Linked DNA regions of Homo sapiens: region 2 is linked to region 1. A link means that fine-mapping ties the variant in region 1 to the expression of a gene that starts in the linked region. Tissue or cell type: whole blood. Region 1 holds a variant in brackets; the other region holds the start of a gene. All regions are shown on one strand. Distances are from middle to middle.

What was found. PIP is the estimated chance that this variant, and not a neighbour inherited with it, causes the effect.
Region 2: it holds the start of AIFM2, and the variant in region 1 is fine-mapped to the expression of AIFM2 in whole blood (TOPMed, PIP above 0.99).

The regions. Positions count from the first base shown.
Region 1 is chr10:70,165,931-70,174,019 of GRCh38, forward strand. It overlaps SAR1A (secretion associated Ras related GTPase 1A), which reads right to left and starts at 4,584. Exons shown (of 7, transcript NM_020150.5): 1 at 4,483-4,584. RefSeq lists enhancers at 3,550-4,208, 4,209-4,865, 4,999-5,078 and a silencer at 4,509-4,868. The variant C/A (reference allele first, on the strand shown) is at 4,968.
Region 2 is chr10:70,129,057-70,137,143 of GRCh38, forward strand. AIFM2 (AIF family member 2) reads right to left here and starts at 3,769. Exons shown (of 9, transcript NM_032797.6): 1 at 3,678-3,769. RefSeq lists an enhancer at 3,560-4,060 and silencers at 3,582-3,791, 3,624-3,943.

The DNA of each region.
Region 1 (8,089 bases):
CCTTTAGCAATCATCAACCTGATCAGTCAACAGCTATCAACGTGGAGTAACATGGAGGTAAGATCCCCAACCAGCAAAGAGGTTATGACTCGCAGAAGGCTCCGATGCTTGTTAGCATTTTTTAGCCATAAAGTATTTTTTAAATAAGGTACGTATTTTCTAAGACGTAATGCTACTGTACACTTAACAGACTACAGTATAGTGTAAACGTAACTTTTATGTGCACTAGGAAACCAAAATATTCGTGTTACTTGCTTTACTGTACTTGTTTTATTTCAGTAGTCTGGAACTAAACTCACAGTATATCCGAGGTATGCCTACACTTTCTTTTACTGTGTGACTTACTCCTCCAGGCAGCGGTTCATTCACATTCCCTAGACATACGACTGCTGTCATCCAGTGAAGAACAACTCTAGGAAATCAGTCTTATCAATAATGTGAATCAGAATGCCACTTAGATGCACTAAATAGAAAATAAGAATGAAAAGCACATTGATTTGAATGAAAAACATATTAATCTATCCTGTAAACAACTCTAAAAAACAAAAGTCACCCAAAATTCTACTGGCCAGCACCACTTGCCCTGCTCCATTTACCAATGTTATCTCAATATTTAATCATTTTTGCAGACACGGGTCTCAATTTATAAAAAGAAATGACATCACTATTTTAGAGAACCATTAAGGGATAAGAAGAGAATCTTTTCATACATGAATAATCACACCCAAACTCATTTTACAAATAGATTTTCTTAAAATAAGAATACTTATTCAGGCCGGGCCCCCGTGGCTCACACCTGTAATCCCAGCATTTTGCAAGGCTGAGGTGGGGGATTCCTCCCTGACCTCAGGAGTTCAAGACCAGCCTGGGTAACATAGAGAGACCTGCATCTCTACAAAAAAAAAAAAAAAAAATTAAAATTAGTCAGGCATGGTGGCACGTGCTTGTAGTTCCAGCTACTTGGGAGGCTGAGGCAAGAGGATTGCTTGAGCCCAGGAATTTGAGGCTGCCGTGAGCTATGATTGTGTCACTGCACCCCAGCCTGGGTGGCAGAGCAAGACCCTGTCTCAAGAAACAAAAAAGCAAAAAAAGAATACTTTTCAGGATATAGCAGTAAGTTCCCAAGCCAGTAAATAACTTAACTGGTACTGATATTAACACTACTTTTTCTATTGTTTCTCATAGCTATCAAAAGCTACTAAAAGGTTTACATATATTGGTAATAAGCAAAATGACCTCTGAATGAAATTAAGAGGGTAGGATCTAGACACACTGGTGGGTCTTAAGGTTTCTCAGCATTGTCTGGCCATGCTGAATTTTTGCTTTAGTATCTCAGATGCGGTGCAGAAAAATGGAAGGTCCACACTTTTACTCCTCTCCATCAGCAGGAGCATCTGAACACAGGGCTTTATACTAGATATGACCAACTGCATTCAAAATTTTCATGAACAGTAACCAGTAAAAGCATTACCCACAAAAAAATCCCCTTACATTCAAAGAATGCCAGATGAAGAATAAAATGAACAGCTGGGCGCGGCAGCGCTTGCTTGTAATCCCAGCTATGCAGAAGGCTGAGGCAGGAGAAACGCTTGAACCTAGAAGGCAGAGGTTGCAGTGAGCGGAGATCGCTCCACTGCACTTCAGCCTGGGTGACAGAGCAGGACTCCATCTCAAAAAAAAAAAAAAAAGAGTAAATTGAAAAGTAGAGCTGGTATGTTTTTCATCCAATTACTGGGTTTTTATCAGGCCCATGGCCTAATCTGTAAATTTTAGGGCCTAATTAATATTTATTTTTCACGGCCCTTACCAAAGACAGCCAAATAAAGTTTGGCAGTTTGGGTGGATACATACTAGGCTCTTACGAAAAAATACTAAATGAGGTGATTTCTTTTTTGCCTTTTCAATAACAAATATATTTCAGCAGAAAGACTGCATTTATCACATTAACTAATAGTTTTCTCTGGAAATTGAGTCCGCACTTTAAGGAGTCCAACAACTTAAATATACTTAATAAAGCTCCTGTGCTGAAATTCCCATTTACTGTAAATAAGTAAAAGAACAATGTGCCCTTCCTCTGCAACTCCCTCAAACCAAACATCCTCCTATACTTTTCTCAATCTACTGCCTGGAGAAGCACAGCTCACCTTTAGAGCACACCCCTCATTAAGGTCATTCCCACTCAGATCATTTTGGAGGGAAGAATTAAAGCATCCAAGTAGCTAAATCCCGGCTGCTGCTGATTTGTATGCTCCAAGGGAGGAGATGGCTTAAAAGCAGGAGTGTCAAAGGAAAATAAAATGGAAAATTAAAGTAGTTCAATTGCCATGAAAAACTATTTAAAGTGTGGCATTTTCTCCTTTTCACCTTTGCAGAATTCATCTAGTTGAAAATACTTGGCTCATGCCTGTAATCCCAGCACTTTGGGAGGCCGAGGCAAGTGGATGACCTGAGGTCAGGAGTTCGAGATCAGCCTGGCCAACATGGTGAAACCCCATCTCTACTTAAAATACAAAAATTAGCTAGGCATGGTGGGCGCCTGTTATCCCAGCTACTCGGGAGGTTGAGGCAGGAGAATCACTTGAACCCGGGAGGCAGAGGTTGTAGTGAGCCGAGGTCATGACATTGCACTCCAGTCTGGACAACAAGAGCAAAAACTCCATCTCAAAAAAAAGAAAGAAAGAAAAATTTCTAAAGTGATGTAAACATTTTTTACAAGTCTGTAAAGTATTGACTGAAAACCAGTGTAGTACAAATGTATATAGAAGTGTTGGGTTGTAAAGGAGTGATGAGAGTGGAGGCTGACTGAAGAAACTCTTCAGGTGAGCTAAAAATAATAAAAACCCTTACTAGATCCAAAGAGTCGGGTTGCACTGCTACCCAAAGTTAAGAAAATGCCCCCGCCCCCCTTTTCTTAAGACAGACCAAGACTCTGTCTCCAAGGCTGAAGTGCAGTGTTGCCATCATGGCTCACTGCAGCCTCAACCTCCCAGGCTCAAGAGATCCTCCCACCTCAGCCTCCTCAGCAGCTGAAAATGGCCTTGGTGGCTCCTCTCTCCTTAAGATCTTAGGATTTGTACCAACTCATCAGTAGTTTTACAATCTGCACAGTACTTGTACATCTCATTTCATCCCCACACCAACCCTACCAGGCAAGGATCACTGGCCTCATTTAACAAGATAAAGATGAGGATACTCCTAGTTTTGCTGAGTCCTTTAAGACGGCTCAGTTGAAAAAGTAATAGTGCCAGGGCTTAAACCCTCATCTCTAACACCAAAGCCTAAGCTCTTCCTGTTAACAGTACATAAAATTCAAACCCAAACCACAAAATTGCTGGGGAAAAAAAAAAAAACTAAAACTTCTTTAACCCACCAACTACACAGAGGATGATCTTCCGAAGTTCTCTTCCTTACAACTCATCACATCTTTTGAATGGTATTTTAATAACTAGCATTCTATTTATTTTCTATTCTTGGTCCATTGTACCACCTTACGAGAAGTTAAGAGTAATCTAAAATTTAAGGTAGGTCTCTAAACTATCAACAAAACACTATTAATGTACCTAAAATGAAAACTTGCGAATTCCAGGGCTAAATGATTCAAACAAATGTTAATAGAAAAGGAGGGCACCAATCTGACCATTAGCCAATTTAAAAATTTACGCATTACTTGTTATACATAATCAGGGCAACTTTAAGACGCCATTCCAGGCAGATTTGGGGTAGTAGGCGGCTGGCTTTTAGCTAACTCTGCTTAGCTGCGGGGTAAATGTCAAAGGTCAGCCCCATGGCGAATCTCCCTAAGCCCCCTGTCGCAACCGAAGCCGATGGAATCAACAAGACAAAGATGCTCCTGACCCACTGGCTAGAATCGTGAAGAAAACGCTAATCCATGTCAAATGCACATAAGGAAATTTTTCCATGCAGAGACCAGACAGGGGAAAAGGGGAAGGGAGAAGGAGAAAATACAGGGTTCGACCCGGGCCATCGGAAGACAACCAAGCGCTGACTTGGGGGTAAGCCCTGGACTAGGGGCCTGTAGACCAGGTTCGAGCGCTCACACTCGCTAACTGCGGAGCCTTGGCCAGCCTCAGTCTCCGAGTCTACAAAACAAGGATAATCATAAAGGGCTCCCACCCGCCTCACCGAGGGCTGTGAGGCTCTTCCGAGACAGAGGACATGGAGCCATTTCGTAAACCGGAGCGCACGGTACAGACAAGAAACTGTTATCCGGCCCAGCAGCTGCGAGACCCCCGAGCGGAATGCAAGTGGACCCCAGGCAAAGAGGACAGCAGGGGACGGAGCAGATCTGGCCAAGTTGTCCCGTCCCCGCCCAGAATCAGCCCCGCGGCCCCACAGAACCGCCTGCGTGTCACTTCCCCCCCACCCAACCCCGCCAGGGCCAGCCTCCGCTCCGACCTCCCCGCCTTCCGTCCCAGCCCCTCGAGCCCCAACTCCCCTCCCCGACGCGACCCTCAGACTCACGGCCTGAGGGGCTCCTCCGGCAAAACAGCGGCTGGCTCGGACCCTCCCTCAGAGCACACTAACCAGCAGCACCCGGGACCGCCAGCTACTCGCCGGATGTACGTCACACCCCTCCCCGGGACTTCCGGGCGCGTAATGGGCCCCGCCCCCTCACAGCGTTACGCCTCTCTGCCCCGGTGCCGTCCCACCAGCGACTCGGGCCGCGGAGGGGCGGGCATAAGGCGTGACAAAGCGCGCTCGGGGTCTGGCCCCGCCTCGGCCCCGCCTGCTCCCGTCTGGCTAGCTGACCGCGCGAGACGTGGCAGCGCCGGAACCCTGGGTCCGGGGCTGGGTCCTGGAGTCCCTGAGCGGCCTGGTACACTCGGGATCGCGGCTTCCCATTCCAGACGCACCAGGAAAGTCAGAAGTGGGTACCGACGGTGACATAGGTCCTGGGAAAGATGAGTTGACCTTGGGGCCCTCCACTTGAGGTGGATCCCTCCAAG[C/A]TTTTGCTTTTTTTCTTCCTTGCTTTTTTTTTTTTTTTTTTTTTTTTTGAGGCGGAGTCTCACTTTGTCGCCCAGGCTGGAGTGCAGTGGCGCGATCTCGGCTCACTGCAACCTCCACCTCCCGGATTCAAGCGATTCTCATACCTCGGCCTCCCGAGTAGCTGGAACTACAGGCGCATGTCACCACACCTGGCTAATTTTTTTGTATTTTTACAGAGACAGGTTTCACCGTGTTGGCCAGGCTGGTCTCGAACTTCTGACCTCAAGTGATCCGCTGGCCTCGGCCTTCCAAAATGCTGGGATGAGAGGCGTGAGCCACCGCGCCCAGCTGCTTTTGCTTTGAGTCGCACTTCCTTGCCCTGGGGTGGCCTATGTTTTAGAAAAACAGAAAAACAGCTAATATTTATTGTGCACTTATGTTCCAGGCAGAGCACTGGGTACTTTGCACGCTTTGTCTAATTTCACCGTCATTGGAGTCCTGTGACTCCAGATGCTAGTATTATCCTTATTGACAAATGAGAGAGCAATGTTCAGAATAACCTACCATGCCCAAGTTCACACAGCTAAGTGGCAAAGCAACGTGTTCACCCCAGTATATTTCGCATGCATTTTCTCATTTAATTCTCAGGACAGTCCCACGAGATTGGTACTATTATTACTCTCATTTTACAAATAAAACAGTCTAATGGAAAGATGAATGACGTCTGTGGGTTCATGAAGATCTCAATTCTCCTTTAGTAAAATTTAAATTTAACATAATCCCAATAAAAGTACTAATAGGATTAATAGGTCGTGTGTGGTTTCGTTCTTTTTTTTTAATTACCCTATTTGTTCCTAAAATTCGTATAGAAAACCAAACAAAACTAGTCCAGAAACAGGCTTTCAAAATGAAGAACAAGGAGGTGGGAACTAACCCTGTTGGATATTAAAACATATTATAGAGCCTAAGTTATTAAAACTGGTGTGCGTGCACATGCACAAACACACACACACAAAAAACACAATGGAACAGAGCAAAGTACAGAAATGACTAAAGTACATGCAGAAATAAAACTAAAGTAGCACCTGGGACTCCAGCAATACTCAGGGAGCTGAGTGGGCAAGCTCACCACCCTCTACCCTCCGCTCATCCTGGGGTCTTAGATGTTGAATTTGAACCCTGTCCTGTCACAGAAAGGTGTCAGGCCACTTCTGAGGCTTCTCACCAGCTTTAGCTAAACCAGGGACAATGTGTCCATGGGGCTTGGAACCCCTTGTGCATCCTGGAGACACAGATGCAAGCCCAGTGCAAGCCAACACATTGGATTACTGGCTTTGTTGAGAGCCTGGCTGCACGAGGTGGAGGTGTCTGAACCACAGGATGGCTTGGGAGGCTGGGGAAGGAGGGAACATGCAGGCAGATTCTCAGAAAAGCCGCAAACTCTACTTACCTAAAGGCTTGAGCAAGTTGACGAATGCCCCAGACCACCATGTACCCACTGTAAAATGGGTGAAACAGGCATTGTTGTGCACATAGTTTTTCCAGAGTACTGTTTTCAATAAATGATTCTGTTATGTGTTGTTAAATAAATTAATAAATAATAAAAGGGGTTGAGACAATTGGGTAGTCAAAAAAACCTACAGGTTGAATCTCCAAAAGTTTATTACTCTAAACAAGTTTCAAGTGATGAAAAGATGTGTGTATTTTGAAATGACACTATAAAGGTACTAGAAAAACAGAAGAAAGCATGGATTCCTTATAATTTTGCAATGAGAAGACCTTTCTGGGTATGATTGAAAATCTAGACCGGGCGTGGTGACTCATGCCTGTAATCCCAGCGCTTTGGGAGGCTGAGACTGGCGAATCACAAGGTCAGGAGTTCGAGACCAGCCTGGCCAACATGGTAAAACCCCATCTCTACTACAAATACAAAAAATTAGCCAGGCGTAGTGGCAGGCGCCTGTAATCCCAGCTACTTGGGAGGCTGAGGCAGGCGAATCGCTTGAACCCCTGCGGCAGAGGTTGCAGTGAGCCGAGATCACACCACTGCACTCCAACCCCGGGCAACAGACTGAGACTCCATCTCAAAAAAAAAAAAAAAAAAGAAAGAAAAGAAAATGTAGATGCCATAAAAGAAAAGATTGACAAATTTAACTACATAAAAATTAAAAACTTATATGGCATAACAACAATCATGACACCATAAGCAAACTCAGACAAATGACAAGTTGAGAAAAATAATCACATCATAGGCAAGTAAGAAGTATGAAAAAGACTAACAACACAATAGGAAAATAGGCAACAGTTCAGAACAGATAATTCATAGGAAAGGAAATAAAAATGACTTTTCTTTTTTTTTTTTTTTTCTGAGACCTAGTCTCACTCTGTCACCCAGGCTGGAGTACAGTGGCGGTCTCGGCTCACTGCAACCTCTGCCTCCAGGATTCAAGCGATTCTCCTGCCTCAGCCTCCTGCATAGTTGGGATTACAGGCATGAGCCACCGAGCCCGGCTAATCTTTGTATTTTTAGTAGACATGGTCTTTGTATTTTTAGTAGAGATGAGGTCTCACCTTGTTGGCCAGGCTGGTCTCAAACTCCTAACCTCCAGTGATCCGCCCGCCTAGGCCTCCCAAAGTGCTGGGATTACAGGCATGAGCCACTGCGCCTGGCCCAAAAATGACTCAAGCATAATAAAATAGTAATAGAAATATAGATACTATAGAAAATATAAATATAGATATTATAGAATAATAGATATAGAAAATATATAAATCCATTTATTTGTCTATGTATCTCTGTATAGTTATATCTATACTGAAATAGAAATAGATTTTAAAAAATAAAAGATAAATTTGAAACTTACTGAGATACCATTTTCACCTGTCAGATTGGCAAAAGTTCACCAGTTTATTGGTGGGAAGGCTGTTTCAGATAGAGAAGTCAGACTGGGCATGGTGGCTTATGCCTGTAATCCCAACACTGGGAGACCGAGGCAGGAGGGTCGCTTGAGCCCAGGAGGTTGAGGGTACAGTGAGCCATGATTGCACTCCAGCCTAGGCAACAGAGCGAGACCTTGTCTCTAAATTAATTAATTAATTAACTAAATCAAATACAGAAGTCAAGAAAGGCCCCACCCAGGTG
Region 2 (8,087 bases), 37 kb before region 1:
CTATCACCCAGGCCAGAATGCAGTGGCATGATCATAACTCATTATAACCTTGAACTCCTGAGCTGGCTAATTTTTTTTTTTTTTTTTGTAGAGATGAGGGTCTCACTATGTTGCCTAGGCTGATCTTGAACTCCTAGCCCCTCAAGGGATCCTCCTGCCTTAGCCTCCCGAAGCACTGGAATTACAGGGGTAAGCCACTGTGATTTCGAGCTGTAGAAAAGATTCAATGAGATCATTTACGTAAAGCATTTTAGCATGGTGCCTGGCACAGAGTAGCAATGAATACACAGCAGCCACGTTTTATATATATATATATAAAATATATGTTGCAGATTAGTTTGCCCAGTCCCAAAAAGTCAGGCCACAGAACCACATGAAAGATCTAATCCCATTTATGGCCAATAAGACACATCCACCTCGGTATGTATACACATATACAGGTAATGATTACAGCAGTTAGCATCTGTTGCACTTTTGCCCATATCTTCGATTTAAGGTATGAGTTTTTTCTCCTTATTTTGGAAAAAAGTTCAACAACTTGCCCAAGTTCAATTCTCAACACATCAAACCTGCTGTCTGAACCAAAGTGCTAATAGTGGTCATAGATAATGTTTTCATTTTCTTCCTTAAGCTTTTGTATTGTTTGAATTTTTTTCAAACAAGCATATGTCATTTTTGCAGAAATAATGTCTTTAATAATAGGACAGACCGCTTACCATCTAATTTTTTAATCAAAATAGAATTCACATATACAATTTACCACTTAAGATGTAAGTTCACAGTGAGCTATGATTGCACCACTGCACTCCAGCCTAGATGAGACCCCATCTTTTAAAAAAAAAAAATGAGATGTAGGCTGACTCACACCTCTAATCCCAACACTTTGGGAGGCCAATGCAGGCAGATTGCTTGAGCTCCGGAGTTCCAGACCAGCCTGGGCAATATGGTGAAACCCCATCTCTACAAAAAATACAAAAATTAGCCAGGCATGGTGGCACATGCCTGTGGTCCCTGATATCAGGAGGCTGAGGTGGGAGGATCGCTTGAGCCTAGGAGGTCGAGGTTGCAGTGAGGCATGATCATGCCACTGCACTCTAGCCTGGGCGCCAGAGCAAGACTCTGTCTCAAAAAAAAATTTTTTTTAATTTAAATTTCAAAAAAAGATGTAAGTTCAGTGGGTTTTAGTGTATTCACCAGGTTGTGCAACCATCACAACTATCTAATTCCAGAACACTTCCATCACCCCCAAAATAAATCCTGTACCCCACCTACCCTAGCCCTGGGTAGCTACTAATGTTCTTTCTGTCTCTATAGATTTGTCTGTTCTAGACAATTCATGTAGATGGAATTATACACTATGTGGCTTTTTGTTTGCGACGTCTTCCACTGATCATCATGTTTTCAAGGTTCATCCGAGTTGTAGCATGTTATCAGTGCTTCATTCCTTTTCCTGGCTGAAAAACAGTCCATTACTGGTGTATGAATAGACCACATTTTGTTTATCCACTCATCAGCTGACGGGCACTTGGGTTGTTTCCACCTTTTGACTATGTGAATAACGCCACTATGAACATTTGTGTACAGGTTTTTGTGTGAACCAGTCTTCAGTCCTCTTTAGTATATATTTAGGTATGGAATTGCTGGGTCATATGGTAACTTGAAGTTTAACTTTTTGAGGAACTGCTAAATCCACCATCTGATTTTGAACTGAACACCAAAGCCCCAGTGGGAATCACAGAGAATCTTAACTATGTCTGTCTAGGTTCAAGAATGTTAGCTTAAAAGAAGGCCTAAGAGAGCGGAACAAACCCTGATTGTCCAGGAACCCCTCAGTAACTTTACCTTTGCTCCCTGCCACAACACACATACACACAGACACACACACACACAATCTGATTTACACAAAAATTTGCTCAGTCAATCCTGTTTTCTCTGCCAAGAGCATCCACCCTGATCTCAAGGGTATTATTCCACAATAAGCAGCCCATAGGACTACTGAAAAACCAGGAAGTTACATTTATGCCAAAGCTGTTCAGAGGTTGTGCCTCAGAAGACACACAGCAGGAACCGTGTGGGCTCTGATCAAAGCAAGAATGTCATCCCAGAGTTGCTCCAGTATTGCTTCACAAATATTACAAATAAAACACGATGCTTTTTGAGTCGTCATGGCTCACACAAAGGGTAGGTTTCAACATCAGCCTCTGGAGAGCCACATTCCCAGAGTGGCCGTCCCGGATAAGAAGGCCACTACAGCACGACTCACAGCACCATGGAGGTTTCCTCCACCTGCGGGACACAGCAGGATGGAGACGGTTGGGCGGCCTCCCTTCCTGGGACACTCCATGGCCAGCCCCTCAGGGACTACTTGAAGAACAGAACCCCCAAAAGACCAGTTTCTGAAAAGGGACTCAAAGTCTAAGGGAGGCAGCCTCCTTTTATCCCCAGGGGAGGGCAGCTCTGGGGCAGACAGGTTCATCTGGATGTCATATTCACTCCCGCACAGAAAACCTAGGCCAAGCAATTTGTCCATCCTCCTCAGAGCCAGTTTTGTGGTCCCCATGGTCTGCCCACCACCTGTACCTGGACGCTGGCTTCATTTGGCCACCAGACAAAAGTCAGGCTGGCCCTGGAGTCCACCGGCCTGCCCAGCCCATCACTTCTGGGCTAGGTAGTGCTAAGCCTGCCCAGCCCACCCTGGCTGGGGCTCAGTGCCCTCTTCTTGGTGACACACTGTGCTCCTTGGAGAACTCCTCTCTAGGTGCTGGGGTGAGGGCAGGTGTGATCTGAGATCCCGGGGCTCTCTGGCAGGTGCATGCACGCACACTGGAACCTGATACAGGCTTTTGAACACAGGTGCACAGTCCAGAAACCTGCAAGTCCCATCCCAAACTATATCTGACTCTCTGCCCTATGCCTGTCCTCCTACAGGATCATCAGCCCCCAAGAGACCTCACCACTCCCCATCCTCACCTTAAATTCCAGGGTCAAAAAGACTCTCCTTGTAGGGAAAGGTAGGGTGTGTTGATCAGGTGGTGTTGGAAGGAGAGCCCCAATATAGGCCACTAATTCAGTTCCAGGTGGACTGCACGCGTCCCATCAGAGTTAGTTTACTCACCGCTGGTCTTTGTCCCTGCAGCACCCAGGGCTTCGGGAAGGGAGAAGCAGACTTCCTAGTGCTGCACCCCCCAGCTCCCCCGAGCCTATGGGCACTGGGTTGACTCCAGTTTCTTTCCTCTTAGAGACTGAGGTTTCTCCCTTTCCTCTCACACCTGCTTCTGTCCGGACCGGCCGCTTCTACCCAGCGGACCCTCGGACGGTCCTCGCAAGATCCGGGTTACACCCGCCCCGTGTTCCCTCTTCCCCGGTTCGCCCTTCCCGGCCTAAGCCCATCTTCCTTAGGAAAACTTAGCAGGGATTTAGGGGCCAAACCAGGAGGGTGGAGTTTTCTTTGCCCTCGGCCAGGAGCACATCTCCCTGTTGCGTTTTTTGGGGGAGACAGAGAGGGGCGGGCCTGAGTCGAGTATCCCTCTCCTCGCAGCGCCACAACTGCGCGCACCGACCTCCCCACGCCAGACGCGGCGTGAGCCAGGCCTCTAATCCGCTCGCCCCTCTTCCGGGTCCCGGTCCCGCCCGGGGCGCCCGGGGTCTCGAGAGCCCGCCTGGCGGCGCGATCTCACCTGTCGGCCGCGCCCGCGCGCTCTCGCTCCGGCTCCCGCTCCCGCTCCCGCTCCCGCTTGGTCGTCTTCCCGAGTTACTGACCCGAGGCGCTCCCGGGCGGGGCGTGACTCAGCACTCGTGCTGGTCCCCGACCCCGCGGCAACGCCCCGGCCAGGCCCCGGAAACGGTCCTGGCACGCTGGGGCTGGTCTCCGAACGGCCCGCCGGACTAACCTTGACCCTGAGCGAACGGCCTTGAACTTTGAAACAAATGCTCCCATGGCCAGATGTCGCCTCTCCGGCTCCTGCCAGCACCCGCGCCCCAGTCCTGCCGAGCCATTCAGACTTGGTTTAAAGTGTCCTTTCAGCATACTTTAAAGCAAAAAAGAGAGAGAGAGAGAGAGAGAGAGAGAGAGAGAGAGAGAGAGAGAGAGAGAGAGAGAGAAGGAAGGAAGGAAAACAAGCATCCCCCTGTTCCTCTGATTTTCTCGAGGACACCTTTAAAGCCACTGGAACCTTGGAGAGTGGGGTTCCCCTCACACGTTGGGCGCACTGCCAACATCCTTCCTTCAGACATACACATAATAATTCCGCAAACCCTGTTGAGCTCCTACATTTGCCAGGCACTGTGCTAGGCGTTGGAGGGATAACTTGGAGAGAAAACTGACAAGGTTCCTGCTTTCACGGAGGCGACAGTCTGGGAAAAGACAGATATTAAACACACCACCAAAAAATACATGTATAGAGAAAACAAAAACCATGTATCACCAACTGCAGTAAGAAAGATTGGGCATGGCCAGGCACGGTGGCTCATGCCTACAGTCCCAGCACTTAGGGAGGCCAAGGCGGGAGGATCGTTTGAGCCCAGGAGTTGGAGACCAGCCTGGGCAACATAGCGAGACCTACAAAAATTAGCCGGGCTTGTTGGTGCACACCTGTAGTCCCAGCTTCTCGGGAAGCTGAGGTGGGAGGATTGCTTGAGCCCAGGAGTTTGAGGCTACAGTGAACCATGATCATTCCACTGCACTCCAGCCTAGGTGACTGTGAGATTCTGTCTCAAAAAAAAAATAATAATAATAATAATAATAAATGAAATGAAATGAAAAAATAAAAAAGAAAGACTGAGGGCAAAGGAAGGGTGCAAATACTTCTCTCCAAGGATGAGAAAGAGGTAGATTTAGGTAAAGAGGAAGGAAGTGTGGTCTGGATGTGCAAAGACCCACAGGCAGGACAATGACCTGGAAGGCAGTGTATTGCCAGCTCAAATCAGACCAAGCTAACTCAGCGAAAGATAAGCCATCTCCATCTACTTACTGCAAATATTAGCACCTACTTTAAGAGTTGTGGATAAGGGCCAGGCACGGTGGCTCACGTCTGTAATCCGAGCACTTTGGGAGGCCGAGGTGGGTGGATCACCTGAGGTCAGGAGTTCGAGACCAGCCTGGCAAACATGGTAAAACACTGTCTCTACAAAAAATTAGCCTGGCATGGTGGCACATGCCTGTAGTCCCAACTACTCAGGAGGCTGAGGCAGGAGATTCACTTGAACCAGGAAGGCAGAGGTTGCAGTGAGCGGAGGTCATGCCATTGCACTCCAGCCTGGGCAACAAGAGCGAAACTCCATCTCTAAAAAAAGAAAAAAAGAGTTGTGGAAAGGCCTCAATGAGATCATTTTTATAAAGTGTTTTAACATGGTGCCTGGCACACAGTAGCAATGAATACACAGCAGCCATTTATTATAGATATTTTATATTGCAGATTATTTTGCCCAAGGCAACCAGAATGATTTATTTTTGATGAAAAATCCTACTCATCGTCTTAGAAAAACAATAAGCTAATATTTATTGATCACGAACTAAGTGCTTTGAATGACTTCTCAAGTTTTTTTGTTTGTTTTTGTTTTTTTCACAAAGGTCCTGCAAGGTAAGTTTTATTAATCTCCATTTTGCAGATAAGGAAATTTAGGCTCCTAGAGGCTAAAGAATTTAGGCAAGGTCCCTCAGCTAGTAAAGCAAGGGGGTGGGCCTACAATGGAGGTCTGAACCATGACCCCTTTTTGGGGGGTAGGGGGACGAATCTGGCTCTGTCGCTTAGGCTGGAGTGCAGTGGCATGCTCTCGGCTCACTGAAGCCTCCACCTTCCAGGCTCAAGCGATTCTCATGCCTCAGCCTCCCAAGCAGCTGGAATTACAGGCACCTGCCACCACACCCGGCTATAGTAGAAACGGGGTTTCACCATGTTGGCCAGGCTAGTCTCAAACTCCTGGCCTCAAGTGATCTGCCCACCTCGGCCTCCCAAAGTGCTGGGATTACAGGTGTGAGCCACTGAGCCCAGCCTGAACCATGACCTTAAAGCCAGGAAACCCCTCAGCAAGCATCATCCCTAAGGAGCCAGAGGGCACTGCTCAGGCAAAGCAGAATCTCAGTTGTGGGGAATTTACTGGGCATGTACCCAGTAAGATGTGACACAGAGAGGTGAACAGAGAGGCTACAGCCTGCCCACTGCACGGAATCAGCCCTGAGGCTTGGGATGGTCATGGAAGGCTTTGTGTAGAAGGTAGGCGTGCAAGGATGAAGGGGATGCCAGCTGGCAGGATGCAAGGAAAGGACTCCAGAAAGAGCAGGACAAAGATAAAGCTGGAAGAGAGGCGAGAGAGGTGTGAGGTGGCCCAACACTGGGCTCAGGTGTGCCAGGGCTGGTGTGGCCCATCTCTAAGGACCTGTCCCAAACCATGAAAAACTTTTTTTTTTTCCTTAAGACCTGCTACAAAGCAACAAACCATGAAAATCAAGGAATTTTTCTGATTATCACTCAATACTTTCTTGGCAACCAGAAGACACCTCCATCCAGGAGAGGGGACATGGTCTCATGCAACCCCTCCAGGTAGCTCACTGCACACCACTCCTCTGGTCCCACTCAGCAGTGCCCATAGCTTTGGAACTGAAAATCAGGGCTCGCTGCCTAAAAAAGGGGTTTTGTCTCTGAAATTCCAAGTGCCAGAGGTAGCAGGAAAGTGCGGTGGTTAGGATCCTGAAAAAGTGGCAAGTTCATTCCATGGAACTTTGACGGTTAGTGGGGAGAGCAGGCAGATTGTCTAACATGACGGAATCTAAGAGGAGGAAGCGTTGCTGGCTCTCTGCTGTAATGAGCTCAGCCAGGCCTGTGGGTACTTCCTTACAGACAACAGGTGGCTTTTCTGCTGGCTCCCAGGGCTGGAGGAGCTCCAAGGTACTGGGTCATCTCAGGAGCCCAGAGAAACAGAGGCAGTATGCCCACTCGAAGAACAGGCAACTCTTAGATCTGAAGAGCCTGGTAAATGTTCTCCTTTTCCATACGTAGTTCCAACGAAATTTGTAAGCTTCAAAGAAGAGAGGAATATCCTCGTTTCTTCCTCTCTCCCCCAACACATGATTTGGTATAGTGTTCCCAGCTAGGGAGAGGCTATATTAATGAAGGTAAGTTCTGCTGCAATGACCAATAGATTCCAAATGTAATGGCTCAAATACAACAGAAGTGCACTTCTTGCTAGGGCATGAGTTCCAGGCCAGTGGACTGGTTTATGAGGCTGTCTCCCTTCACACAGGCATCCAGGGACCAGGCTAACAGGACATGGCAAGTGAGTGCCACTCATGGTCCCAAATTAGATCTTTGTTTTTCTTTTTTAGAAACAGGGTCTCCCTCTGTCACCCAGGCTGGAGTGCAGTGGCATGATCATAGCTCACTGCAGCCTCGAACTCCCATGCTCAAGCCATCCTCCTGCCTCAGCCTCCCAAGTAGCTGGGACCACAGGTGTGCACCACCATACCTGGCTAATTTGTGTGTGTGTGTGTGTGTGTGTGTGTGTGTGTGTGTGTGTTTGAAGAAACAGGGTCTTGCTATGTTGCCTAGGCTGGTCTCAAACTCCTGGGTTCAAGCCTCCCAAAGTGCTGGGATTACATGCGTGAGATACAGCACCTGGTCTCAAATTAGGGAGCTCATCAGTTCTACCTCCTGTGTTGTCACTTGATCTCACCACCACCAGTCCTGCCTCAGCCATCTTCTCTCTCACCAAGCCACTGTAACTGGTCCCTGGGCCTGTCTTGCACTTTTCCAATTTTCTCTCCACAAGGAAGCTGTGCCACACTTCCTTGTCCCAGCTCCTGCCACTCTCAGCCTGGAACACTCTGTTTCCAGTCCACTTGGTAAACTCTGAACTCTCTTTTCATGGTTCAGAGCCTGAATCACCTTGAAGCCTTACCTAACCCACCCCTTCTGGGCCCCCAGACATACTCTTCCCTGGACAGAGCTTCCCTGCTTATTGCACTAATGGGCTGACACATCAGTCTCCCCAGAGTAGCCTGTGGGTGCCTTGATGCCTGTATTAGTCCGTTTTCACGCTGCTGATAAAGACATACCTGAGACTGGGATGAAAAAGAGAATTAATGGACTTAC